Linked DNA regions of Homo sapiens: regions 2, 3 and 4 are each linked to region 1. The links come from fine-mapping of genetic effects on gene expression. A gene starts in region 1. Each other region holds a variant in brackets. All regions are shown on one strand. Distances are between the middles of the regions.

Region 1 (8,161 bases):
AGTGTCATGATCATAGCTCACTGCAGCCCCAAACTCCTAGACTGAAACAACCCTCCCTGCTTCAGCCTCTCGAGTAGCTAGGACTACAGTGGTGCACAACCACCCGGGCTAATTTTTTACTTTCTATTTTTGTAGAAACGGTGTTTCACTATGTTGCCCAGGCTGGTCTCAAACTCCTGGCCTCAAGCGATCTTCCCATCTCGGCCTCCCAAAGTGCTGGGGTTACATGAATGAGCCACCGAGCCTCCCAACACCACTACCCCCGACCACCCACCTTTTAAAAAGATGGGTGATATTAACAGCACGTTTGTGCTGGTGTAAATGATCCAGCAGAAGGAAAATCTGATGATGTAGGAAAGAAAGGAGGAGGCTGGAAGGAAGTCAGTGAATACAGGGAAAAGAATGCAATCTAGTGGTGGACTGGAGGGACTCTTAAATAGGAGCATGGACAGTTCATCTTTTTTTTTTTTTTTTTTTGAGACGGAGTCTCGCTCTGTCGCCCAGGCTGGAGTGCAGTGGCACAATCTCCGGCTCACTACAACCTCCGCCTCCCGGGTTCACGCCATTCTCCTGCCTCAGCCTCCTGAGTAGCTGGGACTACAGGCGCCCGCCACCGCACCCGTCTAATTTTTTGTATTTTTAGTAGAGACGGGGTTTCACTGCGGTCTCAGTCTCCTGACCTCGTGATCCGCCCGCCTCGGCCTCCCAAAGTGCTGGGATTACAGGCTTGAGCCACCGCGCCCGGCATCAGTTCATCATTTTAACAGTGAAGCCAGAGTGTATGGGCAACTAACTGTGGGGTTGTGGGGCTGAAAGAAATGTTAAGGGGGACAGGTGATGTTCTCCTCTGACTGCTTCTCCTTTTTTTTTGAGACTGAGTGTCGCTCGGTCGCCCAGGCCGGAGTGCAGTGGCACAATCTCGGGCTCACTGCAAGCTCCGCCTCTCGGGTTGAAGGTATTCTCCTGCCTCAACCTCTGGAGTAGCTGGGACTATAGGCGCCCGCCACCACTACCGGGTAATTTTTTTGTATTTTTAGTAGAGACGGGGTTTCACCGTGTTAGCCAGGATGGTCTCGATCTGCTGACCTCGTGATCCGCCCGCCTCGGCCTCCCAAAGTGCTGGGATTACAGGACTGAGCGACCGCGCCCGGCCGACTGCTTCTCCTTTCTTAATGAGATATATATTAAAATACAAGTTCATCAGCTTAAAGTAAGAAGCGGGTAGGACAGACTGCAGGTGTAGGAGATGAGAAGAATAGTGTAAAAGAGTGTTGCCTGGGTGCGGCGGCTCACGTCTGTAATAGCAACACTTTGGGAGGTGGAGGTAGGAAGACTGCCTGAGGCCAGGAATTCGAGACCAGCCCAGGCAACATAGCAAGACCTCATCTCCACTAAAAATAAAAAATTAGCCGGGTGTGGTGGCGTGTGCCTGTACTTCTAGCTGCTCAAGAGGCTGGGGTGGGAAGATCCCTTGAGCCCAGGAAATCGAGGTTGCAGCAATACTTCACTGCGCCGCTGCACTCCAGCCTGGGCAACACAGGGAGATCCTGTATCGGAAAAAAAAAAGTGTATTTAGGAAAACACAGATTGGCAGTTTGGGAGATGAAAATTGAATGTAGGAGAATGAACGTCCAGGAAAACACGGTAGACATGACCAAAACACCTTCTTTAGATTAGTGGACTTGTATTAAAAGTGAGATAACTCGGCGGGGCGCGGTGACTCACGTCTGTAATTCCAGCACTTTGGGAGGCCGAGGTGGGCGAATCACAAGGTCAGGAGTTTGAGACCAGCCTGGCCAATATGGCGAAACCCCGTCTCTACTAGAAATACAAAAATTAACCGGCCGTGGTTGCGCGCGCTTATAGTTCCAGCTACTCCAGAGGCTGAGGCAGAAGAACCGCTTGAACCCGGGAGGCAGAGGTTGCAGTGAGCGGAGATGCTGCCACTGCACTCCAGCCAGCCTGGGCGACAGAGCAAGAGACTCCGTCTCAAAAAAAAAAGTGAGACAACTCACCAAGGTTCTGTTTTTCTCCAGCCACTTTCAACAGCCCTTAGTGCGGGTGTGGAATAGGAAAGGTAGATTTAACGAGGTTAGTTAATAAGCAATGTGAAGGAGAAAAATAAAAGGAAAAATGGATTATGAAATATAAAATGGATTACGAGGGAAGCAAAAAGCGTGACAGTAAAAAGGCAGGAGGACAATTATAGGTCCTGGTGGGGTTCAGGCGTTGTTGGAGCCGGGGTTCCAAGTTATTCTTCACAAGTTTAGATTAAGACCATGGAAGTCAGTGACTAAAGCTAAGTTTTTCGTTCCTCTAGATTCTGCCCCAGGAAAGTTTGGGTCAAACCTATCGGGATCCTTAAACCACATTCCACTCCGCCTCCTTTGTCGGGAGGTTTCACAGAAGCGGAAAAGGCGGCTCCCCCTTGCTCCTCCTCCCCACCTCCCCCCTACCTCTAGGAGTTTAGGGCCGGGCCATCCCAACGGGCTGCCCCTCCCAAAACTCACTGTTTGGACAGGTGTTGGGCGTCGCTAGGCGCCGACGAAGAACTTCTTTCCAGTCCATGGCCGACTTCCGCGCAGCAGCTTCTGCATTTGCTGTTTCCTACCTGCTCCACCCCTACCAGCTCAGGCGTCAGCACCGCCAGGCCCCGTAAAGGTTAGGAAGGCCGTCCAACCACCATCTTGATCGAGGGCGGAAGTCTTGGCTAAAGAGGCAAAAACAATTACTGTCACTGCCGCGGAGAATACCGCTACCACGCTGACTGGGGGAAAAAACTATGAAAGAGATGGAAAATGGTTCTCCTTCAGAGGCGACCCAAGCTCACCAAGCCGGATTTTAAAGGCCACGATAAGCCCGCGTTTTCCTTTATCGTGTGCCTTTGGCGCGTGCGCACCACGTGACCCAGGAGTTCATTAGTTCCGGCTTGAGGGAAGCGCCTTCTTTCACAATTTCTTTTCATTGTTCATTGCGGATATCTGGAAGCCTTCCAGGTCCCCTGAATGTAGTAGACACTTCAGCAGCCGTCTCCTACCCCTTTTGCCACTAAATGCTTCAAAACTGCCTTTTTTCCTCGCCGCCGGGCCAGGCGGAACGCCTAAGTCCGGGTCAGTCTCGTCCGTCGGTCGGGGCTGGCGCGGTGCATCGTGGGCACTGTAGTTTCCGCCGCGTTTATGGCCGCGTTAAGTCTGAGTGCCGCTTTGAGTTGTTGAATGAAGTGAACTTCATTTGTCAGCGTTCGGTACGCAGTCTAGGCAGCGCCCTTCCTGTACCTCTCTTCCTTTCCTGAGTCGTTGGCGCAGCTGACTCGCCACCTCCTCCCTCCTCGTCCCCCCACCGGAGGAGTTTTGCGGTCTGTAGAGAGCTATGCAGGGTGAGGGCCCCTAGACTTCGGCTTTCGCCGCTGTTGGTGGTAGGCTGGAGTTGGGGGTCCCTGGATACGGTTTTGGCTTTACACCCCCTTTCCAGCAAGCTTCCCGTGGGAATCTGTTCCTTTTCAGGACAGCTGTGATCCACGTGAGTAAAACTGGGCGTTCCGTCTTGTGCTTTTTCCTCAGGTTCATGAACTGGAATGTAAGAGGCACCAGAGGATTCCTGCTCTGTCCCCTGGTTTGCGGCTTGCGACGTTGGACATCCCCGGATTGTTGTTTAATAGAGAAAACTCACCTGCCTTCTTGCTTTTAAGTAGCCCCAAAAGCAGAACCTTGATTTGTCTGTAAGGAAGAAACACAAACCTTTTAAAAAGTTCCACTTCGACTCTGCACCGCCGACCCCCAATCTCTTTAATTTTGCCATAGAAGAGGGGTTTTTTCAACATCTCTCTCACTATCTGGTGCTGATCTCACTGCATAATGACTTTCTATTTGTTTGGTATTCGAAGCTTTCCGAAGCTTTGGAAGAGCCCATACCTTGGGCTAGGCCCAGGGCACTCTTATGTCTCGCTGTTTCTGGCAGACCGCTGTGGCATCAGGAACCAGCAGAGGTTGTTTTCTCTTAAAACAATGTCTCCACAGAATACCAAAGCAACGAATCTGATTGCCAAGGCCAGATATCTCAGGAAAGATGAGGGCAGTAATAAGCAAGTTTATTCTGTTCCTCATTTTTTTTTAGCTGGAGCAGCTAAGGAGAGATCACAGATGAATTCTCAAACTGAAGATCATGCCTTGGCACCTGTGAGGAACACTATTCAACTCCCAACACAACCTTTGAATTCAGAGGAGTGGGATAAACTTAAGGAAGATTTAAAAGAAAACACCGGAAAGACCAGTTTCGAAAGTTGGATCATTTCACAGATGGCTGGCTGTCATAGCTCTATAGATGTGGCTAAATCTCTGCTGGCATGGGTAGCAGCCAAAAATAATGGTATTGTAAGTTACGATTTACTGGTCAAGTATTTGTATCTCTGTGTCTTTCATATGCAGACATCTGAAGTTATTGATGTCTTTGAAATTATGAAAGCCAGATATAAGACTTTAGAACCTAGAGGTTACAGTCTTCTCATCCGGGGATTGATCCATTCAGACAGATGGAGAGAAGCATTGTTGCTGTTAGAGGACATCAAAAAAGTTATAACTCCTTCAAAAAAGAACTATAATGACTGTATCCAGGGAGCTCTCCTTCATCAAGATGTAAACACAGCTTGGAATTTATATCAGGAATTGCTAGGTCATGATATTGTTCCTATGTTGGAAACTTTAAAAGCTTTCTTTGATTTTGGAAAAGACATAAAGGATGATAACTATTCAAATAAACTACTAGATATTCTTTCATATCTAAGAAATAATCAGCTGTATCCAGGGGAGTCATTTGCACACAGTATAAAAACATGGTTTGAGAGGTAATTTTGGTTTTTTTATATGTATGTTTTTATTCTTTAATTTTTTTTTTTTTTGAGACAGGGTCTTGCTCTGTTGCCCAGACTGGAGTGCAGTGGTGTGTTCATAGCTCACTGTAACCTCAAACTCCTGGCCTCAAGTGATCCTCTCGCTTCAGTCTCCTCAGTAGCTAAAACCACAGGCATGTGCCACCATACCTGGCTAATTATTTTTAATTTAATAACTTTAAACCTCAAAGTAGCCATTCTTTTTTGTTGTTAGTTGCTGAGAATCACTCTTCTGATTATACTTTTTTCCATCTCTTAGTAAGATTTATTTTCTCTTTACGACAAAATTTTCTCTCTTTAAAAAAAGTAACAACATACATAATTTGTGCTAATCTTTACCCATCACATAAAACTGAAATTATATAGCAGTTTTAATTTTTACATTTTTTTCCTTTTGGAAGGATCATTAATTTTGTTTTCTTAGGCATCTAGTATGATGTGAGTACTTAATACTACTTATGGCCACTGTTCATAGCAAGAAAAGAATATAGCATTTGACTAGAACTGTCTCTGGCCATATTAGTATTTTCAGAAGTTCCTCTGAAATCTAGCGACTGAGATAATATGCTTATATTTATTCTGTCTACTCTCTCCCTTTTTTTTTTTTTTGAGACGGAGTTTTGCTCTTGTTGCCAGGCTAGAGTGCAATGGCATGATCTCGGCTCATTGTAACCTTTGCCTCCCGGGTTTTCTCCTGCCTCACACTCCCGAGTAGCTGGGATTACAGGCATGCGCCACCATGCCCTGCTAATTTTCTATTTTCTTTTTAGTAGAGACGGGGTTTCTCTATGTTGGTCAGGCTGCTCTCGAACTACCTCAGGTGATCCGCCTGCCTCGGCCTCCCAAAGTGCTGGGATTACAGGCGTGAACCACCGCGTCCGGCCTATTCTGTCTACTATCTATAGTTCATCAACTTGGATGATTAGAGTGGACAGGGGGATATTGATCAAGCCTTATACGTAAGCATTACAATGGAAAATCTTAACCCTTCCAGTTTGTTTTGGACCTTTCTATCATTTGGCTGCTGTCTCTCTAAAGCTCTCTCCTTTGGTTTGCTTTTGCTTTATTCATGTTACTGGGTACATACCTGTTTATTGCTTTAGTCTTTTTTAAAATTTTTGAAAATTTTTACTTATTTTTTAAAATTAATATTCTTTTTTTAAGAGGTGGGGTCTTGCTGTGTTGACCAGGCTGGACTCAAACTCTTGGCCTCAAGCGATCAGGTGTGAGCCACCATGCTTAGTCATTATTTCTTCATTAATTTGCTTCCTAAAAATTTGTTCCTTCCCTCTGTTTTTCTCTTGCCTTTTTTTCCCCTATATCATGTTTACGGAGCTTTGAAGCAGTAATTATGCTTAATTATCTTAAACTTACTGAAGATCAAGGGAGGAGGAGCCCATTTGTGAAAATCTTTGAATACCAAGGAGTTTGGATTTTATTCTGTTATCAAGAATGCTGGATTTGGCTGGGTGCTGTGGCTCACGCCTGTAATCTGAGCACTTTTAGAGACTGAGGTGGGAGGATAGCTTGAGGCCAGGAGTTGGAGACCAGCCTGGGCATGGTGAAACCCTGTCTCTACAAATAATACAAAAATTAGCTTGGCATGGCGGTGTGTGCCGGTAGTCCTAGCTACTTGGGAGGCTGAAGCAAGAGGATCACTTGAATCTAGGGAGTCAATCAAGGCTGCAGGGAGCTGTGATGGCGCCATGCACTCCAACCTGGGCGACAGAGCAAGACCTTGTCTCAAAAGAAAAAAATAATGCTGGAATGGAGTTTTACAAAGGCAGTTGCCAAGTGAGAAGAGTAGATAGGAGAGGGATTAAGATTGAAAACAGGGAGATCTGCGTGAATACAATTTTAGGTTTAGGTGAGAGATGATGAGAATTAAGAACTGAGGAAGGAGAGAAGGCAGTAGAATCATAAGAACTGATGGTAATATGTGGAAGGGGAAGGAGGAAAGGATACATTGATTGAACAAATACATCAATACATAGTTTTTGAATGCTTCCAAATAGGCTAGGCATTGCGAGTGTTTTATAAAATCTATTATGACATTCTCAATTTAATTGGGAATACAGTACCACACAGTGAAATAACAGTGGTGTGTAAGAGGTAAATTACTCTCGGCAGGAGCAATTTCTGGCAGCTTTATGGAGAAGGTAAGAGTTGAGTTTGGTTTAGAGGTTATGCTACTAAGGTCAGCCGCTTTTGGTAGACTTGAAGATGAGAGTTATTTGTTGGGAGGAGAACCACAGGGAAGAAGGAGATCCAGAGCAGAGTACCAGCAGCTTCTTAACCCCATCCAGGATAGCAGCCACTTTTTAAATTAAACCATTCTACAGAAGTATCTTGAACTTTTCGGACTTCTTGCTTATAAGAGTTTCCAAATACCATGAATATCTTTCATTTCAGTAGGAATCTAACCTTCTCATGATTTGGTTTTGCAATCTTTTCATAGTGTTCCTGGAAAACAATGGAAAGGACAATTCACCACAGTCCGAAAAAGGTGAAGACCAATGTTTATTTTTAACTTGTTTGATTTTGGTTTAGTAGGTTTTGTTGCTATTAATTGAAAAATATTTAAGAACACCTTAAGGGTAGGATAATTACAAGTTTGTAATTAGAGTATCTGAGGAAAAAAACATACTTTGCATACAGAGACTTAGCAGTGCCCAAAATGTTTTTCCTGTGAGTACTGTGAACCTATATGAAGTCTTAGAGATGTTTTTTCCCTAGAGGTTCCAGACCCAGTTGTGTTTTAGGATTTATTTATTTATTTAATTCACCAATATGATATTCCAGAGGATAGGAATTACTTTAAAAATGTCATCTGAGCTGGGCGCGGTGGCTCACGCCTGTAATCCCAGCACTTTGGGAGGCCGAGGCAGGCAGATCACGAGGTCAGGAGATTCGAGACCATCCTGGCCAACATGTTGAAACCAAGTCTCCACTAAAAATACAAGACCCTGTCTCAAAAAAAAAAAAGTCATCCAAACGGCCAATCTACTTTTTTGGGTTTTCTGGCACACTAATTTGTGATATTATCAGGTTTACAAAAAATTAGATGTATGTGATTATCACAAAGGTTTTAATGTTCTTTTTTATTACCTTTTAATTTCCTCATTGTTCATTTCACAAATTTTTTTCCCCAGAACATTATTCGACATATTTAAATATTATTATTTAACAATTATAATTACAGTGGCCAGTGTTCGGGCTGTGGAAAAACCATAGAGTCTATTCAGCTGAGTCCAGAAGAATATGAATGTCTTAAGG
Region 2 (8,161 bases), 200 kb after region 1:
CCCAGCACTTTGGGAGGCCAAAGTGGACAGATCACTTGAGGTCAGGAGTTTGAGACCAGCCTGGCCAACATGGTGAAACCCCATCTCTACTAAAAATACAAAAATTAGCCAGATGTGGTGGTGGACGCCTGTAATCCCAGCTGCTTGGGAGGCTGAGGCAGGAGAATTGCTTGAGCCTGGGAGGCGGAGGTTGCAGTGAGCCAAGATTGTGCCACTGCACTCCAGCCTGGGCGACAGGGTCAGACTCCATCTCAAAAAAAAAAAAAAAAAAGAGAAAGGAAATATATGTTCAACATGGAGCACTCTCTGGCTGGTAGACTATTCATAGAATTATAACTTTATTTTCATGAACTTCTGAATCTGAACACTTTAATATGCTTAAAATTTCTTCATGAATTTTTATCTTTGAGCTGACATAAATTTCAGTTATACTACATATAAATGTATTTTGACGGCTGGGCAAGGTGGCTCACGCCTGTAATCCCAGCACTTTGGGAGGCTGAGGCAGGCGGGTCACGAGGTCAGGAGTTCCAGACCAGCCTGTCCAATATGGTGAAACCCCATCTCTACTAAAAATAGAAAAATTAGCTGGGCATAGTGGCACATGCCTGTAGTCCCAGCTACTCAGGAGGCTGAGGCAGAAGAATCGTTTGAACCTGGGAGGCAGAGCTTGCAGTGAGCCGAGATCACGCCACTGCACTCCAGCCTGGGTGACAGAGCAAGACTCTGTCTCAAAAAAAATAAAAAATAAATGCATTTTGACATAGAAGCTAAATAGAATACTTTATAGTTTAGCTTTATTTATGTTATTCAATTGAAATATTTTCTATCTTAGCTGCAACTAAAGAATTTTATTTTCAAGATACAATTCTAAATCTGATGTCAAAGTAAACATTTTTGTGTATAGGTGAAGGTGGTATAATATCTGGGAATTCCTTCAAAATAATCTGAGGGAAGATAAGTGTGTGTATAGATTTTTTAAAGATTGGTTTATAAATTGATAATTGTTAAAGTAGGTTGATAGGTATATGGGAGTTTATTATACTATCCCACTTTTACGTGTGTTTGAAAAAATTTTTTTTAAATCGTTGTTTTTTTCCCCCTTTTGCCTTCTAGGATTCTTACAGAAGCAGAGATTGATGCTCACCTTGTTGCTCTAGCAGAGAGAGACTAAACATTGTCGTTAGTTTACCAGATCCGTGATGCCACTTACCTGTGTGTTTGGTAACAACAAACCAACATCATGGAGGTCCCTGGATTGAAAAAGGAGCCTCTCCCACTCCTCCTACCACCGAAGTGGTTAGGACTCTATATAAATAAAAACAAGGCTTTTGGAAAATAATTGCATCCTGTTGTTTTCACCTCCTATTTTAAAATTTATTTTTGACACCTAATGTACATATTTATGGGGTGCAATGTGATGTTTCGATACATGTATACATTATAATGATCAAATTAGGGTGATTAGCATATCCATCACCTGAAACACGGTGTTTTTGTGGTGAGAACATTTAAAATCCTCTCCTCTAGCTATTTTGAGGTACACAATACCTTATTAGTTTTTTGTTTTTTAAAACAAGATCTTGCTCTATTGCCCAAGCTAGAGTGCAGTGCCATGATTATGGCTCACTGCAGCCTTGAACTCCCTTGTTAAGTAATCCTCTCACCTCAGCCTCCTTAGTAGCTGGTACTACAGGTGTACACCATTGTACCCAGCTAATTTTATTATTTTTTTGTAGAGTTGGGGTCTTACTATGTTGCGTGGGCTGGTCTCAGACTCCTGGCTAGCATTAAGCGATCCTTCTGCCTCAGTCTCCCAACATGCTGGGGTTACAGGCATGAGCCACAGTGCCTGGGTCCACAGTACCTTACTGTTGACTGTAGTCACTCTGCTGTGCAATAGGATACCAAATCTTACTCCTTTTTTCTCTTTTTTGAGACAGGTACTTGATCTCACCCAGGCTGGAGTGCAGTGGCAGGCGTGCTCATAGCTCACTGCAACCTTAAATACCTGGGGTTAAGCAGTCCTCCCACCTTAGCCTCCCAAGTAGCTAAGACTACAGACATGCATCACCAGGCCTGGCTAATTTTTTATCTTTTAAAATATTGACATAGGGGTCTCCCTATGTCACCCAGGCTAGTCTTAAACTCCTGGCCTCGAACAGTCCTATCTCAGGCTCCCAAAGTGCTGGGATTACAGGTGTAAGTCACTGCACTGGGCCCCTCCTGTCTAATTGTAACTTTTTAGCTGTTCACCACCTTCTCCCCATCCCTCCCACTACCACCTCCAGTCCCTGGTAACCACTGTTCTATGTACTATTCACTACTTATAGATCAACGTTTTTAGACTTGGCATGTAAGTGAAAATGTGGCATTTGTCTTTCTGTATCTGGCTTATTTTCACTTAATGTATTGTCCTCTAGGTTCATTCATGTTATAAATAACAGGATTTCATTCTTTTTAATAGCTGAATAGTGTTCCTTTGTGTATATATATCACATTTTCTTTATCCATTCATTCACTTTGAACACTTAAGTCAGTTATATCTTGGCTATTGTGTATAGTCCTGCAATAAACATGGGATTGCAGATACCTCTTCAACATACGGATTTCACTTCCTTTGAATACATACCAAGGAGTGCAGTTGTTGGGTCATAGAGTAATTCTGTTTAATTTTTTTAGGAACGTTCATACTGTTTTCCATAATGGCTGTACTCATGTACATTTCCCTTAATTGTAAGGGTTCCCTTTTCTCTGCATCCTCAACACTTCTTATGTTTTGTCTTTTTGATAATAGTTATTCTAACTAGTGAGGTGATGTCTCATTGTGGTTTGCCTCCAATTTTAAGTATTAAGCCTTTGGTATATGCAGACAAATATTCACCATCTTCACATTGTAGCTTTAGTCATTTTGTTGACACTGGTACAAGTTTACTTGGCTTAAGACATTTCATAGCCAGCACCAGGCGTGCTGGCTCACACCTGTAACCCCAACACTTCGGGAGGCTTAGCCGGGCAGATCACTTGAGCTCAGGAGTTCAAGACCAGCCTGGGCAACAAGGTGAAACCCTGTCTCTACCAAAAATATAAAAACTTAGCATGCACATCTGTGGTCCCAGCTACTTAGGACACTGAGGAGGGAGAATTGCTTGAGCTCGGGGGATAGAGGTTGCAGTAAGCAGAGATTGTGCCACTGCACTCCAGCCTGGGTGACAGAAATGCCATCTTAAAAAAAAAAAAAAAAGCCAGAAATGTAAACTAGCTATATGGTATAATTAAATAACAAACTACAACTTTGGTTTTGAAACCCACTCTGGCCGGGCGCTGTGGCTCACACCTATAATCCCAGCACTTTGGGAGGCTGAAGTGAGAGGATTGCTTGAGGCCGGGAGTTTGTGATGAGCCTGGACTACATAGCAAGACCTCGTCTCTACAAAAAATTTTTAATTAGCTGGGCATGGTAGCCTGCACCTGTAGTCCCAGCTACTCAGGAGGCTAAGGCAAGAGGATCACTTGAGCCCAGGAGTCTGATGCTGCAGTGAGTTGTGATTGTGCCACTGCACTTAAGCTTGGGTGACAGAGTAAGACCCGGTCTCCAAAAAGAAATCCACCCTGACCGTAAGTTGGCATGTGAGGAAAGGCCTTTATTTTACAATTTCTCATTCAAACAAGATACTACTGAATGTGGACTCCAAGTCCCACTGAATGCTTTAACTATAATAAAAGGATTAGTATGATCTTCCATAGTTTTGAGAAAAGCATTTATACTCATTAAGAACCAGTATTTTCAAGGGTAGAAATTTTAGTTACCTTCAGGAAACAGGGCTAGAAAAGTCATAGAATGTGTGTAGTTTCTGTGCCTCCTTAATAATAAGTACTTGAAGATAACATTAAGGAATTGGTTTATATTAAAGTTTAGAGACCCAGCATCACAATGTTCAGGAAGAAAGAACAAACTGTATATTCATGGTAACTTTTTTTTTTTTTTGAGACAGAGTCTTGCTCTATCGTCCAGGCTAGAGTGCAGTGGCGTGATCTTGGCTCACTGCAACTTCCACCTCCCGGGATCAAGTGACTCTACTGCCTCAGCCTCCTGAGTAGCTGGGATTACAGGCACCTGGCACCATGCCCGGCT[AATT/A]ATTATTATTATTATTATTATTTTTGTATTTTTAGTAGAGACGGGGTTTCACCATGTTGGCCAGGCTGGTCTCGAACTCCTGACCTCGTGATCCACCTGGCTCGGCCTCCCAAAGTGCTGGGATTACAGCTGTAAGCCACCGCACTCAGCTGTAGCCTATGTTTTTTTTAATGTACAGGATTTTTTAAAGTCCCTAGACTGGTGACCTGAACCACTAATTAGAGATGATTAAAAAATCTTGGAAAGTCTAAGGGTAATACATTTTGTGTCCTCTTTTGCACAGAGGAAGTCTGGTGCTGTTGACCTCATGCAGGTGAGTGTGGCTGCTGGTCTCATGCCAGTCCCTGAAATTAGAGTTGCCCCTGTTTCTGCAGCCACCAGGGCCACACAAGGGGAGGCCACATAAACATATGACCAGTAGAAGCAGGAAACTTCACCAACCACATCCTCTTCAGAGCTGTCAGGAATAGTAAAATTTCCTAACAAGGAAGCAGGGTTCTTCCTTGTTCTTCCAGGTTGTTCTAGGATTACCCATCCTAATCCACTAGGCTCTTTGAAAGTGCTGCCATCGTTTCGAAAGTGGGGTCTATGTAAAAGGGCTAATCCTCTAAAGACAAGCTGAATTTCCACACCCTTAGAGCCTTGACTGATGTCACCCTCCTAGAATCAGTGGATGAGAGACTAGCAACTAATTCAGTTTTACTGTTAGGGGCTCCTTTTCAGAGGTGAAAAACTAAAATTCTGTAATTTGTTAGAAAGTAAGTTTTTACATTATAAGGCAAAATCTAGATGAATTAGGATTAAATATAGAATAGTTTTAAATATTGGTTGTTTATGCTTAATTAAAAGAATGAGAAGAAATAGATCATTTTAAATAGGTGAACATTAGGCTGGGTACAGTAGCTCATGCCTATAGTCCCCAATACACTGGGAGCCCAAGACCAGTGTGGCAACATTTTGTCTCTACAGAAAAATTTAAAATTAGGTCAATTGTGGTGGTGCACACACACCTGGAGTCCTAGCTACTTGGGAGGCTTAAGTGGGAGGGTCACTTGAGCCCAGGAATTCAAGGCTGTAGTAAACTATGATCACAACACTGTACTCCAGGCTGGGTGGCAAAGCAAGACCCTTTCTCTAATAATGAAAATAAAAGGGTGGACATTAAATACTCTAATTCTGGCTGGGCGCAGTGGCTCATGCCTGTAATCCCAGCACTTTGGGAGGCTGAGGCAGGCAGATCACCTGAGATCGGGAGTTCAAAAGCAGCCTGACCAACATGGCGAAACCCTGTCTATACTAAAAAAAAATTAGCCGGGCATGGTGGCACATGCCTGTAATCCCAGCTACTCGGGAGGCTGAGGCAGGAGAATCGCTTGAACCTGGGAGGTGGAGGTTGCAGTGAGCCAAGATCATGCCATTGCACCCCAGCCTGGGCAACAAGAGTGAAACTCTGTCTCAATCAATCTGTTTCTTGTTTTGTTTTCTAAACAAACTACCTGGAATGGATAACAAAGGGTTAATGCAGAAAGGTTATACAAAATGCCAAGAAAAATGCCTGAAATCTTTAAATATCTTTACTCAAAGAACATTTTGATTAGTAAGAAATACACATACCAGGCACAGTGGCTCACGCCTGTAATCCCAGCACTTTGGGAGGCCCAGGCAGGCGGATCACTTCAGGTCAGGAGTTCAAGACCAGCCTGGCCAACATGGCGAAACCCAGTATCTACAAAAATACAAAAATTAGCCAGATGTGGTGGCGTGCACCTGTAATTCCAGCTACTCAGGAGGCTGCGGCAGGAGAATCACTTGAACCCGGGAGGCCAAGGTTGCAGTGAGCTGAGATCGGACCACTGTACTCCAGCCTGGGCAACAGAGTGAGACTCCATCTAAAAATCAATCAATAAATATAAGAATACAGATATGAGGCCAAACACAGTGGCTTATGCCTGTAATCCTGGCACTGGGAGGCCAAGGGGGGTGGATCACTTGAGGTCAGAAGCTCGAGACCAGCCTGGCCAACTTGGTAAAACCCCATCTCTACTAAAAAATACAAAAATTAGCTGGGCATGGGGGCGCACACCTGTAGTCCCAGCTACTTAGGGGGCTGAGGCAGGAGAATCGTTTGAACCCGGGAGGCAGAGGTTGCAGTGAGCCGAGATCCCGCCACTGCACTTCAGCCTAGGCAAGAGAGCTAGACTGTCTCAAAAAAAAATACAGATATGATTTTTTAAATATGAGAAATATAATAATTCTGACACTCAGAGGATATGTCCAGACATTCATGAACGTGAAGCTATTTGGGTAGACATGAGGCTTTCCTTCTCTTGATACCTCATTTTTCATAAGCAGTTACTGTACCATTTAGGTTACAAGTCAGCAACAAACCAGGTACTCAGCTCCCTCACTAGCCTCCAAATCCAAGATCCAGATTTGTGACACAACCAAATTATTACATTAAGGATCTTCACGTAGGGGCACACACCTGTAGTCTAGCTACTCAGGAGGCTGAGGTGAGAGGATCACTTGAGCCCAAGAGGTCGAGGCTATAGTAAGCTGTGGTCACGCCACTGCACTCCAGTCTGGGGGACAGAATGAGACACCTGTCTCAAAAAAACAAACAAAAATCTAAAATGACAGCTAAGCTAATTAACATCATAATGGTGAATTAGTTTAAATTTTTTTATTTTTATTTATTTTTATTCTTTGAGACGGAGTCTCCTTCTGTCACCCAGGTTGGAGTGGAGGGGCACGATCTCGGCTCGCTGCAACCTCCGCTCCCAGGTTCAAGTGATTCTCTTGCCTCAGCCTCCTGAGTAGCTGGGATTACAGGCGCGTGCCACCACGCCCAGCTAATTTTTGTATTTTTAATAGAGACGAGGTTTCACCATGTTGGTCAGGCTGGTCTCCAACTCCTAACCTCGTGATCCACCTGCCTCGGCCTCCCAAAGTTCTGGGATTACAGGCGTGAGCCACCACGCCAAGCCTGTTTTATTTTTGTAGAGGCAGGGTCTCGCCATGTTGCCCAGACTGGTGTCCAACTCCTGGGCTCAAGCCATCCTCCTGCCTCAGCTTCCCAGTGTTGGAATTACAGGCGGGATTACAGCCACCATACCTGGCTCCAAGATGGCTTCTAACTCCATTTATTTTACATTCTGGAAATTCCAGCTGATACAATAAGAAATGAAATTAAGAGGTATTGGAATGGAGATAGAATTATAATCTACTATTTAGATTATTTACCTAAAAAAATAAGAAAGTGACCTAATAAAGTATTAGTCTTTATTGGGACAGGCCCTGTTTTAGATACAATATCCTTTAAACTGGTTTAAGTTGAACATTTATAATTTGCTTGTCTACAGTTCCAAAATTCAGGAAGTTCTTAAAACTCAACTGGCTTTTTATATCTCACTTTATTTCTGCAGAAATATGAATGTGCTTAATTATAGGGTGCTGCCCCAGACTCCAGTGGTAGAGTTATGGAATATATGGTTTAGACATCATATTACCACTCTAAAATCCAAAATACATTATATTCCGAACGCATCTGTGCCAGGCGTGGTGGCTCATGCTTATAATCCTCGCTGGGGAGGCCGAGGTGGGCAGATTGCCTGAGCTCAGGAGTTCGAGACCAGCTTGGGTAACATAGCAAAACCCCGTCTCTATTAAAAATACAAAAAAAAATTAGGCGTGGTGGCGCACGCCTGTAGTCCCAGGTACTCGGGAGGCTGAGGCACAAGAATCGCTTGAACCTGGGAGGCAGAGGTTGCAGTGAGCCAAGATTGCACCACTGCACTCCAGCCTGGGCCACAGAGTGAGACTCTGTTTAAAAAGAAAGAAAGAAAGAAAAGAACCTGGCCCCATGCCTTTTGGATAAAGAATAATAGACTTATACTATTATTATTCCCCTGTTGCGGGTAAAAACAAACAAACAAAAACGAAAACAAAAACTGAGTCCAAGTTAAGTAATTTGGCCAGGATCACACAACTACAATGTGTCAATGACAGGACTAGAACACACAA
Region 3 (8,161 bases), 26 kb after region 1:
TTTTTAGTTCTTTTGTTTGTTTTAAGAGACCCTTGTCACCCAAACTAGAGTGCAGTGGCGTGATCATAGCTCATTGCAGCCTCAACCTCCCAGGCTCAAGTGATCCTCTCACCTTAGCCTCTTGAGTAGCTAAGACTACAGGCACACACCACCACGACCAGCTAATTTTTTAATTTTTTGTAGAGATGGGGGATCTCACTTTGTTGCCTGGGCTTGTCGTGAACTCCTGGGCTCAAGTAATCCTCCAACCTTGGCCTCCCAAAGGGCTGGGATTACAGGCGTGAGCTACTGCACCTGGTGCTTTTTTAGTTCTTATTGAGACTTCTTAATCATTTTCTTTTACTTTTCAAAATGGAAGTGGGTTTTATCCTGATTATAATATTTATTAATTATAAAAAATTTCATCAACACCTGTGAAAAGGGGAAAATTTTTTTTTTGGTCAAAATAGCTATAAAGAAAGATAAAAGGCCGGGCGCAGTGGCTCACGCCTGTAATCTCAGCACTTTGGGAGGCCGAGGCAGGCAGATCATAAGGTCAAGAGATCAAGACTATCCTGGCTAACATGGTGAAACCCCGTCTGTACTAAAAATACAAAAATTAGCTGGGCATGGTGGCATGCGTCTGTAGTCCCAGCTACTGAGGAGGCTGAGACAGGAGAATTGCTTGGACCTGGGAGGCGGAGGTTGCAGTGAGCTGAGATCGCGCCACTGCACTCCAGCCTGGCGACAGAGCGAGACTCCATCTCAAAAAAGAAAGAAAGAAGGAAGGAAGGAAGGAAGGAAGGAAACAGCCCACCATGATCCATTCATTTTGAACTTTAATTTTATTTGATTATTTATTTATTTATTTATTTATTTATTTTTTTATTTTTTGAGACAGAGTTTTGTTCTTGTTGCCCAGGCTAGAGTGCAATGGCACCGTCTCGGCTCACTGCAACCTCCGCCTCCCGGGTTCAAGCGATTCTCCTGCCTCAGCCTCCCAAGTAGCTGGGATTACAGGCGCCTGCCACCACACCCGGCTAATTTTTTTATATTTTTAGTAAAGAAGGGGTTTCACCATGTTGGCCAGGCTGGTCTCAAACTCCTGACCTCAGGTGATCCGCCCGCCTCGGCCTCCCAAAGTGCTGGGATTACAGGTGTGAGCCGCCGCACTCAGCCCCATTTTGAACTTTTAATGAAACTTTAATCATAATCACAGTCCCCATAATTCTGTGATTTAGAAGTTTTTAAATAAAGCTTTAATGATTTAGGATTCTCCTTTCTGGAAAAGAAAAAAAGGCAGGCAAATTGCCCGTGGTACATTTAATTGAGTTTTTAGGGTTAAGTTTAAAGCAAATCATTTGTCCTGCTTGATAGTATCTCTTCAGTTTATTGACAAAGAGGTGTTTCTCTAAATACAAATTTAAGACAGGACATATGACCCTAATGAAATGTCAGTATAAGAACTTATCTAATTTAGGTCTTTAGGGATTTTTTTTTCTTTATTTGGTTACAAACTGAAAGATGTGAACTGAGCTCTTTATCACAGTCTCCAGAACCTTCTCTTTTCTCTGGGTTTGAAGATCTTGTCATCTCTAAAATGAACTGTGGGTTTTTTTCCCCAGATTTAAATAAATGTTGTGTGGTAAATGGAAAACTTTGTGGGTTTAGTGATTTTTTAAAAATCTGAGAAAGAAATTTAATTATCTGCAAAATATAGTTTTAAACCATGTGTTTTAAAGTACAGGCATACCTTGAAGACATTGCAAGTTTGGTTCTAAGCTTTATCGTAAATATTGCAATAAAGTGAGTCACACAAATTTTTTGGTTACCCAGGTCGTATAAAAGTTATCTTTCCATGGCTGGATATGGTGGCTCACACTTGTAATCCCAGTGCTTTGGGGCCCAGGCAGGAACATTGCTTGAGGCCAGGAGTTCGACACCAGCCCGGGGAACATAGTGAGATCCCATCTCTACAAAAAAATTTTTTTTTTAGTTAGCTCGGCTTGGTGGTGTGTACCTGTAGTCCTAGCTACTTTGGAAGGCTGAGTTTGTAGGATCACTCAAGCCCAGGAGTTCAAGGTTACAATGAGTTGTGATTGTGCCACTGAACTCCAGCCTGGGAGACAGAGTGAGACTCTGCCTCTAAACAACAACAAAACTTATCTTTCCACTATGCTGTAGACTATTAAGTGTGCAATAGCATTATGTCTAAAAAAATATATATAGATACCTTAATTTAAAAATACCTTATTGCTAAAAAATATGCTGGTGGTCATCTGAGCCTTCAGCAAGTTGTAATCTTTTTGCTGATGGCAAGTCTTGCCTTGATGTTGGTGGCTGCTGACTGATCAAAGTGGTGGTGTTTGTTGAAGGCTGGGATAGCTATGACAATTTCTTTATTTTTTTGAGACAGGGTCTCACTCTGTCACCCAGGCTGGAGTGCACTGGCAAGATCATGGCTTACTGTAGCCTCCACTTCTCAGGCTCACATGATCCTCCCACCTCAGCCTCCTGAGTAGCTACAACTACAAGCTCACATGACCATGTCTAGCTAATTTTTTCTAATTTTTTGTCGAGCTGGGGTTTTGCCACATTGCCCAGGCTGGTCTTGAACTCCTGGGCTCAAACGATCCACCCACCTCAGCCTCCCAACATGCTGGGATTACAGGCATGAGCCACTGTGTGGCAATTTCTTAAAATAAGACAATAATGAAGTTTGCCACATAAATTGACTCTTCTTATCACAAAATATTTTTCTGCAGCATGCAGTGCTTTTTGAAAGCATTTTACCACATTAGAACTTTTTTCAAAATTGGAGTCAATCCTCTGAAATCCTGCTGCTGCCTTGTCAACTAAGTTTACGTAATATTCTAAATTCTTTGTTATCATTTTAACAATATTTACAACGTGTCTACTAGGAGTGAGTTTTATTTCAAGAAACCACTTTCTTTGCTAATCCATAAGAAGAAATTCCTAATCCAAGTTTTATTTTGTGATTGAAGCAATTCAGTCACATCTTCAGGCTCCACTTCTAATTCTAGTTCTCTTGCTATTTCCACCATATCTGCAGTTCCTTCTTCCACTGAAATTTTGAATCCCTCCGAGTCATCCATGAGGGTTGGTGTCAACTTCTTCCAAACCTGTTACTGTTGATATTTCAACCTCTTTCCATGAATCACAAATGTTCTTAGTGGCATGTAGATCGGTGAATCCTTTCCAGAAAGTTTTCCGTTGACTTTGCCCAAATCCTTCAGAGCAATCACTGTCTATGACAGCTATAGCCTTACAAAACATGTTTTTCAAATAATAAGACTAGAAAGTCGAATTTACTCTTTTATCCATGGGCTTTAGAATGGATGTTGTGTTGGTAGACATGAAAACAACTTTCATCTCCTTATACATCTCCATAAGAGCTCTTGGGTGACTAAGTGCATTGTCACTGAGCAATAATATTTTGAAGAGTCTTTTTTTTGGAGCAGTAGGTCTCCACAGTGGGCTTGAAATATTCAGTAAACCATGCTGTAGACAGATGTGCTGTTAGCCAGGCTTTGTTCCATTGATAGAGCATAGGCAGAGGAGATTCAGCATAATTGTTAAGGACTCTAAGATTTTTGGAATGGTAAACGGGCATTGACTTCAATAAAGTCACCAGCTGTATTAGCCCATAACAAGAGAGTCAGCCTGTCCCTTGAAGTTTTGAAGTCAAGCATTGACTTCTCTCTAGCTATGAAAATTCTAGATGGCATCTTCTTCCAATAGAAGGGGCTGTTTTGTCTCCACGGAAAATCTGTTGCTTAGTGTAGCCACCTTCATCAGTGATCTTAGATCTTCTGGATAGCTTGCTGCAGCTTCTACATGAGTACTTGCTGCTTCACCTTGCACTTTTTTTGTTTTTTGTGTTGGTTCCACCAGTCTGTGCCCATAACCTCCCAGCAGCCTACATGTTGCACTTTTTA[A/ATT]TTTTTTTTTTTTTTTTTTTTTTTTTGAGACGGAGTCTCGCTCTGTGGCCCAGGTGGGAGTGCAGTGGCGCAATCTCGGCTCACTGCAAGCTCCGCCTCCCAGGTTCACGCCATTCTCCTGCCTCAGCCTCCCGAGTAGCTGGGACAACAGGCGCCCGCCACCACGCCCGGCTAATTTTTTTGTATTTTTAGTAGAGATGGGGTTTCACCGTGTTAGCCAGGATGGTCTCGATCTCCTGACCTCGTGATCCGCCCGCCTCGGCCTCCCAAAGTGCTGGGATTACAAGCGTGAGCCACCGCGCCCGGCCTAATTTTTTTTTTTAATACAGTGTCTCATTCTGTCATCCAGGCTGGAGTGTGGTGCTATGATCATAGTCCACTGGGGCCTCGAACTCCTGTGCTCAAGTAATCCTCCCATCTAGGCCTCCCAAGTAGCTAGGACTACAGGCATACCACCATACCTGGATCATTTTTAAATTTTTTGTAGAGATAGGATCTTGCTATGTTGCCCAGACTGGTCTCGAACGCCTGACCTCAAGTGATCCTCTTGCTTCAGCCTCCCAAAGTACTGTGATTACAGGTGTGAGCAACCATGACTGGCACCTTGCATTTTTATGTTATGGGGATTGCTTATTTTCTTAAACCTCTTGAGCCAAATTCTGCTGGCCTCCAACTTTTCTTCTACGGCTTCATCACCTCTGTCAGCCTTTGTGGAATTGAAGCATTCAGGTCTTGCTTTGGCTTAAGAGAATGTTGTGGCTGGTTTGATGTTTCATCCAGACCACCAAAACTTTCTTCATATCAGCAATAAGGCTATTTTGCTTTCTTATCATTTATTTGTTCACTGAAGTAGCACTTCTGATTTCTTTCGAGAACTTTGCATTTGCAAAGTTTGGTACCTAGCTTTTGGCCTATCTTAGCTTTTTTGTTTTGTTTTGTTTTGTTTTTTAAGGCGGGGAGACAGAGTCTCACTCTATCACCCAGGCTGGAGTGCAGCGGCATAATCTCAGTTCACTGCAACCTCTGCCTCCCAGGTTCAGTTGAGCAATCCTCATGCCTCAGCCTCCCGAGTAGCTGGGGATTACAGGCATGTGTCACCACACCGGCTAATTTTTAGTAGAGATGGGGTGTCGCCATGTTTCCCAGGCTGGTCTGGAACTTCTGGCCTCAAGTGATCCGCCTGCCTCGGCCTCCCAAAATGTTGGGATTACAGGCGTGAGCCACCATGCCCAGCCCTGTCTTAGCTTTTGACATGCCTTCCTCACTAAGCTCAGTGATTTCAAGCTTTTGATTTAAAGTGTAAGACCGGAGACTCTTCCTTTCACTTGAACACCTAGAGGCCATCGTAGAATTATTAATTGGCCTAATTTCAGTATTGTTGTGTCTCAGGTAATAGGGAGGCCTGAACAGAGGGAGAAAGATGGGGAAATGGCTGTTGGTGGAGCAATCAGAAGTCACACAACATTTATTGATTAAGTTTACTGTCTTACAGCAGCACGGTTTCTGGTGCCCTAAAACAATTACCATTCAGGTATGTCGGTGCAAGAATTCTGGCCAAAAATGTAAAGCTTCTAGAAAAATCAATGAATTCAGAATTTTAGGAAGGTTAAAAAGTTAAAAGGACAAGCAGGTCACTCCTAGCAGTGGCCTTCCCAATGTCAAATGTTTTCCTTATTTCTTCATTCTTTTTCTTTTATGTAACACTTGACTGAAATTCTACCAGCTGGGATCCAGGCTTTTTTATGAGATTTAGCTTGAAGCAGTGTACTTTCCTCCTAAAGCCTAGCTGAGTTTGGCTTTACAAGGAAATGAAAATTATGTGTGGCTATGGGTGTTTGGCTGCTGCTGTTTTAGAGTTGGGTTGGTGATTTTTCATAGAGAACGTTTTGAGGGGCTGATCTGAGGGGGGTGCTCAAATGGAAAGTTTTGTGTGGAGTAGTGTGCTAGAGACAGAGGGATAAAGTCACCTTTAGGAGGTTGAAACAAGGTGGGAGTGTGCAAAGGAGATACTTGACTTTTCTTGTGCTAAGGGCAAGAGAGTCTTATCTTTCTTACAGCGAGTGATCTTTTCTCTCTCAGATTCAGGTTGGCATTATTACTGTTATACTATAACCCATTGCATCATTTGGCTTGGAAACCAAGCCATTTTTAAATTAATTTTTATTTATGGGAAAAGTGTTGTGAGTTCTTTATAATCATCTACTAAGTGAATTTTTAGAAACAGTATTTGGAAGTGAGGTACGTCCCAGAGTGATACACTTTTAGTGTTATTTTTCTTAAAAGATTCTGCCTAGGATTTTTGATTTAGTTTTTCTATAGCTATTGCTTAAATGTATCGATTTTATTGCTTTTTCATTTGGTCTTCTTAGAGAATAGAATAATGTAAATAAGATACTAGATTAGAAACAGTAATACTGGTGCTGAAGACAGACAGCTTACTTCTGAAGGAAGAGAAAACTACCAGTGTGAAAGAGCAGCAGCTGAGATGTTGAGAATAAGGCCTCTGATCACCACTGAACCAAACTCCCGATCTTTATACACATGTATAGTCTTCCCTATCTCAGTAAATACAACTTTTTCCTTCTAGCTATTCAGGTCAAAAAGGTCAGAATCATCCTTGATTCCCCTCTTTCCTTCATATCCCCATTCTAATCTGCCAGCACTCCCTATTTTCCATCTCTGCTTTATTTTTCTCCATAGCACTTATCTGACATGCTACACACACACATACACACACACACACACACACACACACACACACACACACAGAGCTTTTACTATATATCTTTTCTCTGTATAGAGTGAAAGCACCACAAGGGTAGGGATTTTTAAATGCCTGTTTAGAACACTGTTGTATCCTCATAACTCAGAATAGTGCTTTACATAAAGATGCTCAATTTGTTGAATAAATGAATAATAGTTACCATTTACTGAATTCTTAGTGTCAGGCTAAGATCTTTGTGCTAGGATCTTTGTATCAGTTATCTCTAATTTTTTTTCTTCTTTTTTTTTTGTTAATCCATCTTTTTTTTTTTTTTTTTATTGATCATTCTTGGGTGTTTCTCGCAGAGGGGGATTTGGCAGGGTCATAGGACAATAGTGGAGGGAAGGTCAGCAGATAAACAAGTGAACAAAGGTCTCCGGTTTTCCTAGGCAGAGGACCCTGCGGCCCTCCGCAGTGTCTGTGTCCCTGGGTACTTGAGATTAGGGAGTGGTGATGACTCTCAACGAGCATGCTGCCTTCAAGCATCTGTTTAACAAAGCACATCTTGCACCGCCCTTAATCCATTCAACCCTGAGTGGACACAGCACATGTTTCAGAGAGCACAGGGTTGGGGATAAGGTCATAGATCAACAGCATCCCAAGGCAGAAGAATTTTTCTTAGTACAGAACAAAATGAAGTCTCCCATGTCTGCTTCTTTCTACACAGACACAGCAACAATCTGATTTCTCTATCTTTTCCCCACCTTTCCCCCTTTTCTATTCCACAAAACCGCCATCATCATCATGGCCCGTTCTCAATGAGCTGTTGGGTACACCTCCCAGACGGGATGGTGGCCGGGCAGAGGGGCTCCTCACTTCCCAGAAGGGGCGGCCAGGCAGAGGTGCCTCCCACCTCCCGGATGGGGCAGCGGCCGGGTGGAGGCGCCCCCCACCTCCCTCCCGGACGGGGCGGCTGGCCGGGCGGGGGCTGACCCCCCCACCTCCGCCTCCCTCCCAGACAGGGCGGCTGCCTGGCGGAGACGCTCCTCACTTCCCAGACGGGGCGGCTGCCGGGCGGAGGGGCTCCTCACTTCTCAGACGGGTCGGCCGGGCAGAGACGCTCCTCACCTCCCAGACGGGGTGGCGGCCGGGCAGAGGCGCTCCTCACATCCCAGACGGGGAGGCGGAGCAGAGGCGCTCCCCACATCTCAGACGGTGGGCGGCCGGACAGAGACTATCCTCATTTCCTAGACGGGATGGCGGCTGGGAAGAGGCGCTCCTCACTTCCCAGACTGGGCAGCCGGGCAGAGGGGCTCCTCGCATCCCAGACGATGGGCGGCCAGGCAGAGACGCTCCTCACTTCCCAGACGGGGTGGCGGCCGGGCAGAGGCTGTAATCTCGGCACTTTGGGAGGCCAAGGCAGGCGGCTGGGAGGTGGAGGTTGTAGCTAGCCGAGATCACGCCACTGCACTCCAGCCTGGGCAACATTGAGCACTGAGTGAGCGAGACTCCGTCTCAA
Region 4 (8,161 bases), 140 kb after region 1:
CACTTCCTCTGTGGTGACTTCCCTGACCACCCTCCTCACCCACAGTCTGATTGAAGTGCCCATCCTTTGTGTTCCATCTTAGTGCATACATTATATTATATTAATTTGACTGCAAAGACCTTGAGGTTAGAGATAACTGTGTTTGGTTGTTTTTTTGTTTTTTTGAGATGGAGTCTCACTTTGTCTCCCAGGCTGGAGTGCAGTGGCGTGATCTCGGCTCACTGCAACCTCTGTCTCCTGGGTTCGAGCAATTCTCCTGCCTCAGCCTCCCAAGTAGCTGGGACTACAAGCATGTGCCACCACGCCTGGCTAATTTTTTTGTATTTTTAGTAGAGACGGGGTTTCACCATGTTGGTCAGGCTGGTCTCGAACTCCTGACCTCAAATGATCCACCCGCCTTGGCCTCCCAAAGTGCTGGGATTACAGGCATGAGCCACCACACCCGGCTGGAATAACTGTTTTTTTATATCTGTATTCCAAGTACCACATGCCTAGTGACTTACAGAGGAGGTTCTTCTTAATCTTTGATAAATGAACTGGCCTTTTCAATTCATCAGGACCATTATATTTTATTTTATCAAGAGATAGGGTTTTGCTGTGTTGCCCAGGCTACACTTGAACTGCTGGGCTCAAGCAATCCTCCTACCTCAGCATCCCAGGTAGCTGGGACTACATGCATGTACCACCAAACACAGCCTCTAGATTCAACTACCAGTTTGCAAGAAGCATAGAAGACTGGAGACTATGTTACATGATACCATAGGGATGCAATCGGTAAAATCTAAATGGAGGAAATTCTCTATGAACAATCATATGCCTTAGACTATAAGGGAGAAAAGATAAATAGATAAAGAGCTTATACAGAGTCTTAAGAGAGATACCAGGCAATTTCAATGTATGGGAATTTTTTAGATCCTTATTCAAAAAACAATTGTGACTCAGAAATATGAGTCATTTATGTTACATTTATGTTACATAAATTTTATATTAAATATATTTTACAACAAGAAAAGATTTTATCAGGCTGGGCGCAGTGGTTCACGCCTGTAATCCCAGCACTTTGGGAGGCCAAGGAGGGCGGATCACGAGGTCAGGAGTTTGAGACCAGCCTGGCCAACATGGTGAAACCCCATCTCTACTAAAAATACAAAAATTAGTTGGGCGTGGTGGCAGGCACCTGTAATCCCAGATGCTCGGGAGGCTGAGGCAGGAGAATCGCTTAAGCCCAGGAGGCGGAGGCTGCAGTGAGCTGAGATTGCACCACCGTACTCCAGCCTGGGTGACAGAGCGAGACTCTGTCTCAAAATCTCAAAAAAAAAAAAAGAAAAAAGAAATTGTGCGTATCTTTTTTTTTTTTTTTTTTTTTTTAAGACAGAGTCTTGCTCTGTCGCCCAGGCTGGAGTTCAGTGGTGCAATCTCAGCTCACTGCAGCCTCCGCCTCCTGGGCTTAAGCGATTCTCCTGCCTCAGCCTCCTGAGCATCTGCGATTACAGGCGCCTGCCACCACGCCCAACTAATTTTTGTATTTTTAGTAGAGATGGGGCTTCACCATGTTGGTCAGTCTGGTCTCGAACTCCTGACCTCGTGATCCGCCCACCTTGGCCTCCCAAAGTGCTGGGACTACAGGCGTGAGCCACTGCGCCTGGCCCTGTGCTTATCTTTTAAAGCATTCTTATATTTAGAAATGCATTCCAACATATTTACAGGTGAAATGATATGTCTGGGATTTGTTTCAAAATAATCCGAGAGAAGGAAGTGAATTGGTATATAGATGAAATTGGATTGGCCGTGAGCTGATAATTATTGCAGCTGAGCGATGGGTACATGGCAGTTCATTATGCTATTCTGCCTGCTTTTGTTTATATTTAAAATTTTTATGATAAAATCCTTTTTTTTTTTTTTCTTTTTTGAGACCGAGTCTCGCTCTGTTGCCCAGGCTAGAGTATAGTGGCACCATCTCAGCTCACTGCAACCTCCTCCTCCTAGGTTCAAGCGATTCTCCTGCCTCGGCCTCCCAAGTAGCTGGGACTACAGGCGCTTGCCACCATACCCAGCTAAGTTTTTTGTATTTTTAGTAGGGACTGGGTTCTACCATGTTAACCAGGCTGGTCTCAAACTCCTGACCTCAAGTGATTTGCCCGCCTCAGCCTCCCAAAGTGCTGGCATTACAGGCATGAGCCACTGTGTCTGGCCTGATAAAATCTTTTATTGTTGTAAAATATATTAACATAAAATTTACCATTTTAACCATTTTTCAGTATACAGTTCAGTGGCATTAAGTACTTCATGTTGTCGTGCAACTGTTGCCACCATTCATCTCCAGACTTTTCTCATCTTCCCAAACTGAAACTCTGTATCCGTTAAACAATAGCTCCTCATTCTCCTCTCCCTGCTGCCCTGACAACCACCATTCTATGCTGTCTTTATGAATTTGACTACTTTAGGTAACTTATGTAAGTGCAATCATTCAGTATTTGTCCTTTAGTGTCTGGCTTTTTTCACTTAGTTTTCAAGTTCATCCATGTTGTAGCATGTATTAGAATTTCATTCCTGTTTAAGGCTGAATAATAATCTATTATATGTATATACCACATTTTATCGATCTATTCATCTTCCAGAAATTGACATTTGGGTTGCTTCCAAAACAGTTTTTAAGTTCTTTCCTGGAGGTATCCCATAATGAATGTTCTTATAAATGAGGTATATTGATGATAGTTATCTTGCTGAGGAACAGACGAAGAATTTCTAATTTCTGAAGACATCAGATCCCAAAGGCTTTAGAGTTTCTGAACAGCTACAATCCATAAAACCTCAGGAAGTGCCATAGACTGCAGAGGAGGAGGTAAAAAGGTATAAGCACAGGGAAAGGAAGTTAACATTTGCTGTTTAGGATTACTGAGAAAAACTCTTGCTCTCATTGGCCTCTCTTACCTCCCAGGCAGCTTTTCTATTTCCGGAGCATCCCTACACAGTTATTTCTAACCCATGTAGCCCTGCCAACTATATTTTTACCCTAAGCTCAGGAACTACTTTTCATCAGTTTTATGCCAAAAGTTGATGTGTCACATATGAGTAAAAAAAAAAAAAATCTCTTATCTCCTCCTACTGGAGATAAGCCAAATTAGGGCAGAAGCCAAACCAGAAAAATTCAAACCAAATATTAATCTGAAATATGTTTGTTTGTTCATTTGTTTGAGACAGGGTCTCACCATGTTGCCCAGGCTGGTCTCGAACTCCTGAGTTCAAGAGATCCTCCCACCTCAGCCTCTCAAAGCACTGGGATTACAGG[C/T]ATGAGCCACCGCACCTGGCAAAATATGTTTTTATTCTTCTGATTTTTAGAGAATTATCCTTAATCATCTTGAGAAAAAACAGTAGACAGAAAATTAAAATTTAACCCCGATGGTAATCAGAATAAAGAAAATGCAGTGGCAAAAGGAGACGTATTTCAAGGAAAAATAATTTTGTGAAAAGGAAAGGTGAAATAGTAGGAAATATTGGAAACAGAAACCCCAAATCAGAAGAGAGAAAAAAAAGAATTCTAAGATGATAAGTCTGACTTGAGTAAGCCTCCATCTTCCCATTCCAGAAGTCTGGGCCAAGTGTACTCCTTATCAGTAAGGGAAAGTATCACTAAGGAGGACCCGTGATGTTGTGTGGGATGGGGCAGGCAGGGTGTGGGGGCGGGGCAGAGATACCGTATTTTAGGTTAAGCCTGAGGTATTGGGTACTCAGGAGGTATTAGTTCTGGGATCAGTTTGGAATTTTAGATGTGCTCTAGAATGAACCGCGTATTGTTTATTTTGTTGTGCTATGTAGTCCAGACTCCAGAATGTATCCTTCCGGTATTATCACACAGTTTTGATTACCATAGCTGTATAAGAAGGACTAAAATGAGGTTAACTGATTTTTCTGCTTCATTCTTTCTTTTCAAAATTGTTTTAGCTATTCTACTTCCTTTGCCTTTACTGTCTATAGCCTTCCAATTCATGAACCTGGACGATGGTGTTGAGTTCTTCTATATGCTTGCTGATTTTCTGTCCAGTTATCTCAATTGTTGAGAGAGGAGTGTTGAGGTTTCCAACTGTAGTTGTAGATTTGGCTATTTCTCCTCCTGGTTCTGTCAGCTTTTGCTTTCACATATTTTGCAGCTCTGTTGTTTGGTACACACATTTAAGATTGCTATGTTTTCTTAGATTGACCCTGTTACCATTATATAACGTCTTTTGTGTCTCTGGTAATTTTCTCTGCTCTGAAGTCTATTTTATTTAATATTAATATAGCCACTCCAGCTTTCCTTTCATTGTTTGCATGCTATATAACTTTTTCCATCCCTCTACTTTCCACCAGTCTATTTGATTATATTTGAAGTGAGTTTTTTTTTAGATAGCATATAGTTGGGTCATGTTTTTTAATCCATTCTGCCAGCCTCTGTCTTTTAATTGGTATATGTAGACTTTTTATACCTCATACTGTTATTGATATGTTAGGGCTTATATTTGCCATTTATTTTTTCTTTTCTGTGTTTTGTCTCTGTTTTACTTTTCCTCCCTTCCTATGGACTATTGAACTTTTTTAGAATTCCGTTTTTATTTCTTTATAATGGCTTTTTAAAATCTATAGTGTTTTTTTCTGGGTGCAGTGGTTCACACCTGTAATTCCAGCACTTTGGGAGGCTGAGGTGGGTGGATCATTTGAGGTCAGGAATTCAAAACCAGCCTGGCCAACATGGTGAAAATCGGGCTTTACTAAAAATACAAAAAAAAATTAGCCAGGCATGGTGCCGTGCACCTGTAATCCAAGCTACTCAGGAGGCTGAGGCAGGAAAATTGCTTGAACCCGGGAGGCGGAAGTTGCAGTGAGCCGAGATCAGACTACTGCACTCCAGCCTGGCGGACAGCGAGATTCTGTCTCAAAAAATAAATAAAATAAAATAAAATCTATAGTGTTTTTGAGTGTATCTTTTTGTATAGCATTTTTAGTGATCACTGCAGGTGTTTTGGAGGTTTTTCGGGTTTTTTTTTTTTTTTTTTTTTTGGTGGGAGCTTTTCCAGATAGGGTTTCACTCTGTTGCGCAGGCTGGAGTGCAGTGGCACTATCATAGCTCACTGCAGCATTGATCTACTGGGCCCAAGGGATCCTCCCACTTCAGCCTCCAGAGTAGCTGGGACCACAGGCACACACCACCATCCCCAACTAATGTTTTTTATTTTTAGTAGAGACAAAATCTTGCTTTGTTTCCCAGGCTGGTCTCAAACTCCTGAACTCAAGCTGAGGCAGAAATTAAAGAAAGAAAGAAAAAATAAAATTAAAAAAGAGAAATAAACTTTCCTGTATTAGGCTGACTTGACCCAGAGGCAGCAACAGGCACAGGCCAGACCCAAGAAAAGTCTTGATAATACTATCTAATGTGCCCTGAAGACTCTCCCAGTACTCCCTCAACATAAGGAAGAGAAAAACAAATTTTCCTTTGTCTTATAGTATAAGTTTATAGATTCCTGTTCTCTGTAACTAGTAACTTCAAGTATTCTGTTTTACCTAAACAGTACAGTGAAAGTCATGAGACATCTGAGCAGGCCTAAGCTATAGCCACCTAGGTGCCATAGTGAATGTCACAGAATAAGCCGTGCTAGGCACTAAGGCAAACCTAGATAACAGCCATCTAGATTGCATAGCAACAGTCATGTGTAATCCTGAGTTATGCACCTATCACAGTTTGATTAACTGTCTTTGTTCTGCCTCTGTATTCTTGCTTTCGCACCACCATAAGTTTGTTTCAGGCTAGCCCACCCCCTTTTTGAAGGGTATTTAACAGTCAAGTGCTGTCTTTGTTCTTAGCCCAGTTTTTTAGATGTTAAGTCTGCTAGGTCTGAGTGCACTCAATAAAGATCCTCCTGCTTTACCCCGAAGTCTGTCTAGTCCTCCTGATTTCTGCAACAAAGCGATCCATCCAACTTGACCTCCCAAAGTGCTAGGATTACAGGTATGAACTACCACACCCAGCCAACTCTATTTGTTTTATACATACACAGACTCACACACATACACAGCATCATAATCTACTGATGTTATTTTACCAAGTTTTCTGAGTAAGACTGCCTCTTTCCTGGTCTTTGGCTAGAGAGAACAAGCCTTTGTTGGGTTTTTTTGTCTGCACACATTGGCATTTCTAGGTTGACAGCTTCTTCAGCTCCAATTCTGAGATCTATGTGGCAAAAAGAAAACCCAGGGAACTCACCACCATGTCAGTCCTTGTGTACTGAGGTCCCCAGCCAGTTTGCCATTTTTCCCTCTACCTTTCCAAGTCTTCTTATGTTTATTTTATATATAATGTCCAAGGTTTTTAGTTGCACTTAGTGGGAGACATAGGGAGAAGTACATCTACTCCATTTTCCCTCCTGGTTTTACTTTTGATCTAACATAGAATCTTAAGTTGAATTTTCTGTCTTTTTAAAAAAATTATTCCAAGTAGCCAGGCGCGGTGGCTCACGCCTGTAATCCCAGCACTTTGGGAGGCCAAGGCGGGCAGATCACGAGGTCAGGAGTTTGAGACCAGCCCGACCAACATGGCGAAACCCTGTCTCTACTGAAAATACAAAAATTAGCTGGGCGTTGTGGCGGGTGCCTGTAATCACAGCTACTCAGGAGATTGAGGCAGGAGAATCACTTGAACCCAGGAGGCGGAGGTTGCAGTGAGCCAAGATTGTGCCATTGCACTCCAGCCTGGGTAACAGAGCGAGACTCTGTCTCAAAAAAAAAACAAACAAACTATTCCAAGTATACCTATGACACTGATTCAGACCACTGGATCCAGCCTTCGAATTTACCCGAGAGGAAGTGGGTTCATGGCTGGACTGTCATGGAGTTTCAGGCCAGGGCTTTTATGCTGCACACTCATCTTTTTCCCTGTGTCTTTCAATTATTCTCCTTTGTTTTCATTGTTTTCAGAGAGCTGCTTCTAGTAGAGACTTCTCAGCCACAAGATGGTGCCCCAGAATAGTTCAAGATAGGCTTTTCTGCTCTTCTTTGGGCCCCAGTCTTTAATGTACTATTAGTAAACTCAAGGCCATTTATCTGAACCAGGATATAGCTATGAAGACACAACTGTATTATCTTAAGCCATGTTTTCCCAGTTGCCTGAAAACTTAAGCAATCAGTATCAGAAATAGTTTTTGTTTGAATTTTTTTTATAATTTTATTATTATTATTATTATTTAGAGATGGGGTCTTGCTGTGTTGCCCAGGCTGGTCCCGAACTCCTGGCCTCAAGCAGTCCTCCTGCCTCAGCATCCCAAAGTGCTGGGATTACAGGCCTGAGCCACCAGACCCAGCCTATGTCTTTTGAGCTATTTGAATCCATGAATCAAAGTTTACTAGTGTAGATGTTTGCCTTTTATTACTAGCCCAACTTTTAAAATAGCTTATAAGATTATGTTTAAAAATACATAGAATAACTTTCTTTGCCATGTCTACTGAGAGAACGAAGACCATTCTCAGCAACCAGACTGTCAACATTCCAGAAAATGGTGACATTACTCTGAAGGGACACACAGTTACTGTGAAAGGCCCCAGAGGAACCCTGCAGAGGGATTTCAATCACATCAGTGTAGATTCAGTCTTCTTGGAAAGAAAGAAAAGAGGCTCCAGGTTGATAAATGGTGGGGAAACTGAAAGGAACTGGCTGCCGTTCAGACTATTTGTAGTCATGTACAGAACATGATCAAGGGTGTTACACTGGGCTTCCATTACAGGATGAGGTCTGTGTATGCTCACTTCCCCATCAATGTCGTTATCCAGGAGAATGGGTCTCTTGTTGAAATCTGAAATTTCTTGGGTGAAAAATACATCCTCAGGGTTCGGATGAGAACAGGTGTTGCTTGTTCAGTATCTCAAGCCCAGAAAGATGAATTAATCCTTGAAGGTAATGACATTGAGCTTGTTTCCAATTTAGAGGCTTTGATTCAGCAAGCCACGACAGTTAAAAACAAGGATATCAGGAAATTTTTGGATGGTATCTATGTCTCTGAAAAAGGAACTGTTCAGCCGGCTGATGAATAAGATCTAAGAGTTGTCCAGCTTCTGAAACAAGATGCCGGATGATTCCTAAGACCTATTTGTGATGTTTAAATGATGCAAAAGACCTATTGATTTGGAAAGAAAAATA

Direction of the effects. Positions count from the first base shown, and alleles are read on the strand shown. Sizes are in standard deviations (SD) of each study's normalised expression. Not every link is listed here.
For the expression in monocytes after LPS of the gene that starts at base 3,161 in region 1, allele A in region 3 goes with a lower level than allele ATT (large effect, 1.0 SD a copy in Fairfax 2014).

The links. PIP is the estimated chance that this variant, and not a neighbour inherited with it, causes the effect.
Region 2: its variant is fine-mapped to the expression of PRORP in whole blood (INTERVAL, PIP 0.97).
Region 3: its variant is fine-mapped to the expression of PRORP in monocytes after LPS (Fairfax 2014, PIP 0.94).
Region 4: its variant is fine-mapped to the expression of PRORP in whole blood (TOPMed, PIP above 0.99).

Annotation. Positions count from the first base shown.
Region 1 is chr14:35,119,392-35,127,552 of GRCh38, forward strand. PRORP (protein only RNase P catalytic subunit) reads left to right here and starts at 3,161. Exons shown (of 8, transcript NM_014672.4): 1 at 3,161-3,244; 2 at 3,561-4,840; 3 at 7,344-7,391; 4 at 8,088-8,161. The coding sequence starts at 3,855. PPP2R3C (protein phosphatase 2 regulatory subunit B''gamma) reads right to left here and starts at 2,599. Exons shown (of 13, transcript NM_017917.4): 1 at 2,511-2,599. The coding sequence starts at 2,568. It overlaps PRORP-PSMA6 (PRORP-PSMA6 readthrough), which reads left to right and starts at 2,448. Exons shown (of 15, transcript NR_182666.1): 1 at 2,448-2,661; 2 at 3,561-4,840; 3 at 7,344-7,391; 4 at 8,088-8,161. RefSeq lists enhancers at 1,803-3,002, 2,222-3,141, 2,385-2,514, 3,055-3,134, 3,142-4,061 and 1 more.
Region 2 is chr14:35,316,133-35,324,293 of GRCh38, forward strand. PSMA6 (proteasome 20S subunit alpha 6) reads left to right here. Exons shown (of 7, transcript NM_002791.3): 7 at 1,117-1,361. The coding sequence ends at 1,174. PRORP-PSMA6 (PRORP-PSMA6 readthrough) reads left to right here. Exons shown (of 15, transcript NR_182666.1): 15 at 1,117-1,339. Among named protein-coding and RNA genes, the nearest start is that of PSMA6, 28 kb to the left of the region's middle. The variant AATT/A (reference allele first, on the strand shown) is at 4,136.
Region 3 is chr14:35,144,973-35,153,133 of GRCh38, forward strand. The region is part of intron 4 of PRORP (protein only RNase P catalytic subunit); the gene reads left to right. All of the region lies in intron 4 of PRORP-PSMA6 (PRORP-PSMA6 readthrough), which reads left to right. Among named protein-coding and RNA genes, the nearest start is that of PRORP, 27 kb to the left of the region's middle. RefSeq lists an enhancer at 7,913-8,161. The variant A/ATT (reference allele first, on the strand shown) is at 3,939.
Region 4 is chr14:35,254,982-35,263,142 of GRCh38, forward strand. All of the region lies in intron 5 of PRORP (protein only RNase P catalytic subunit), which reads left to right. The region is part of intron 5 of PRORP-PSMA6 (PRORP-PSMA6 readthrough); the gene reads left to right. It also overlaps the pseudogene RPL9P3. Among named protein-coding and RNA genes, the nearest start is that of PSMA6, 33 kb to the right of the region's middle. The variant C/T (reference allele first, on the strand shown) is at 3,290.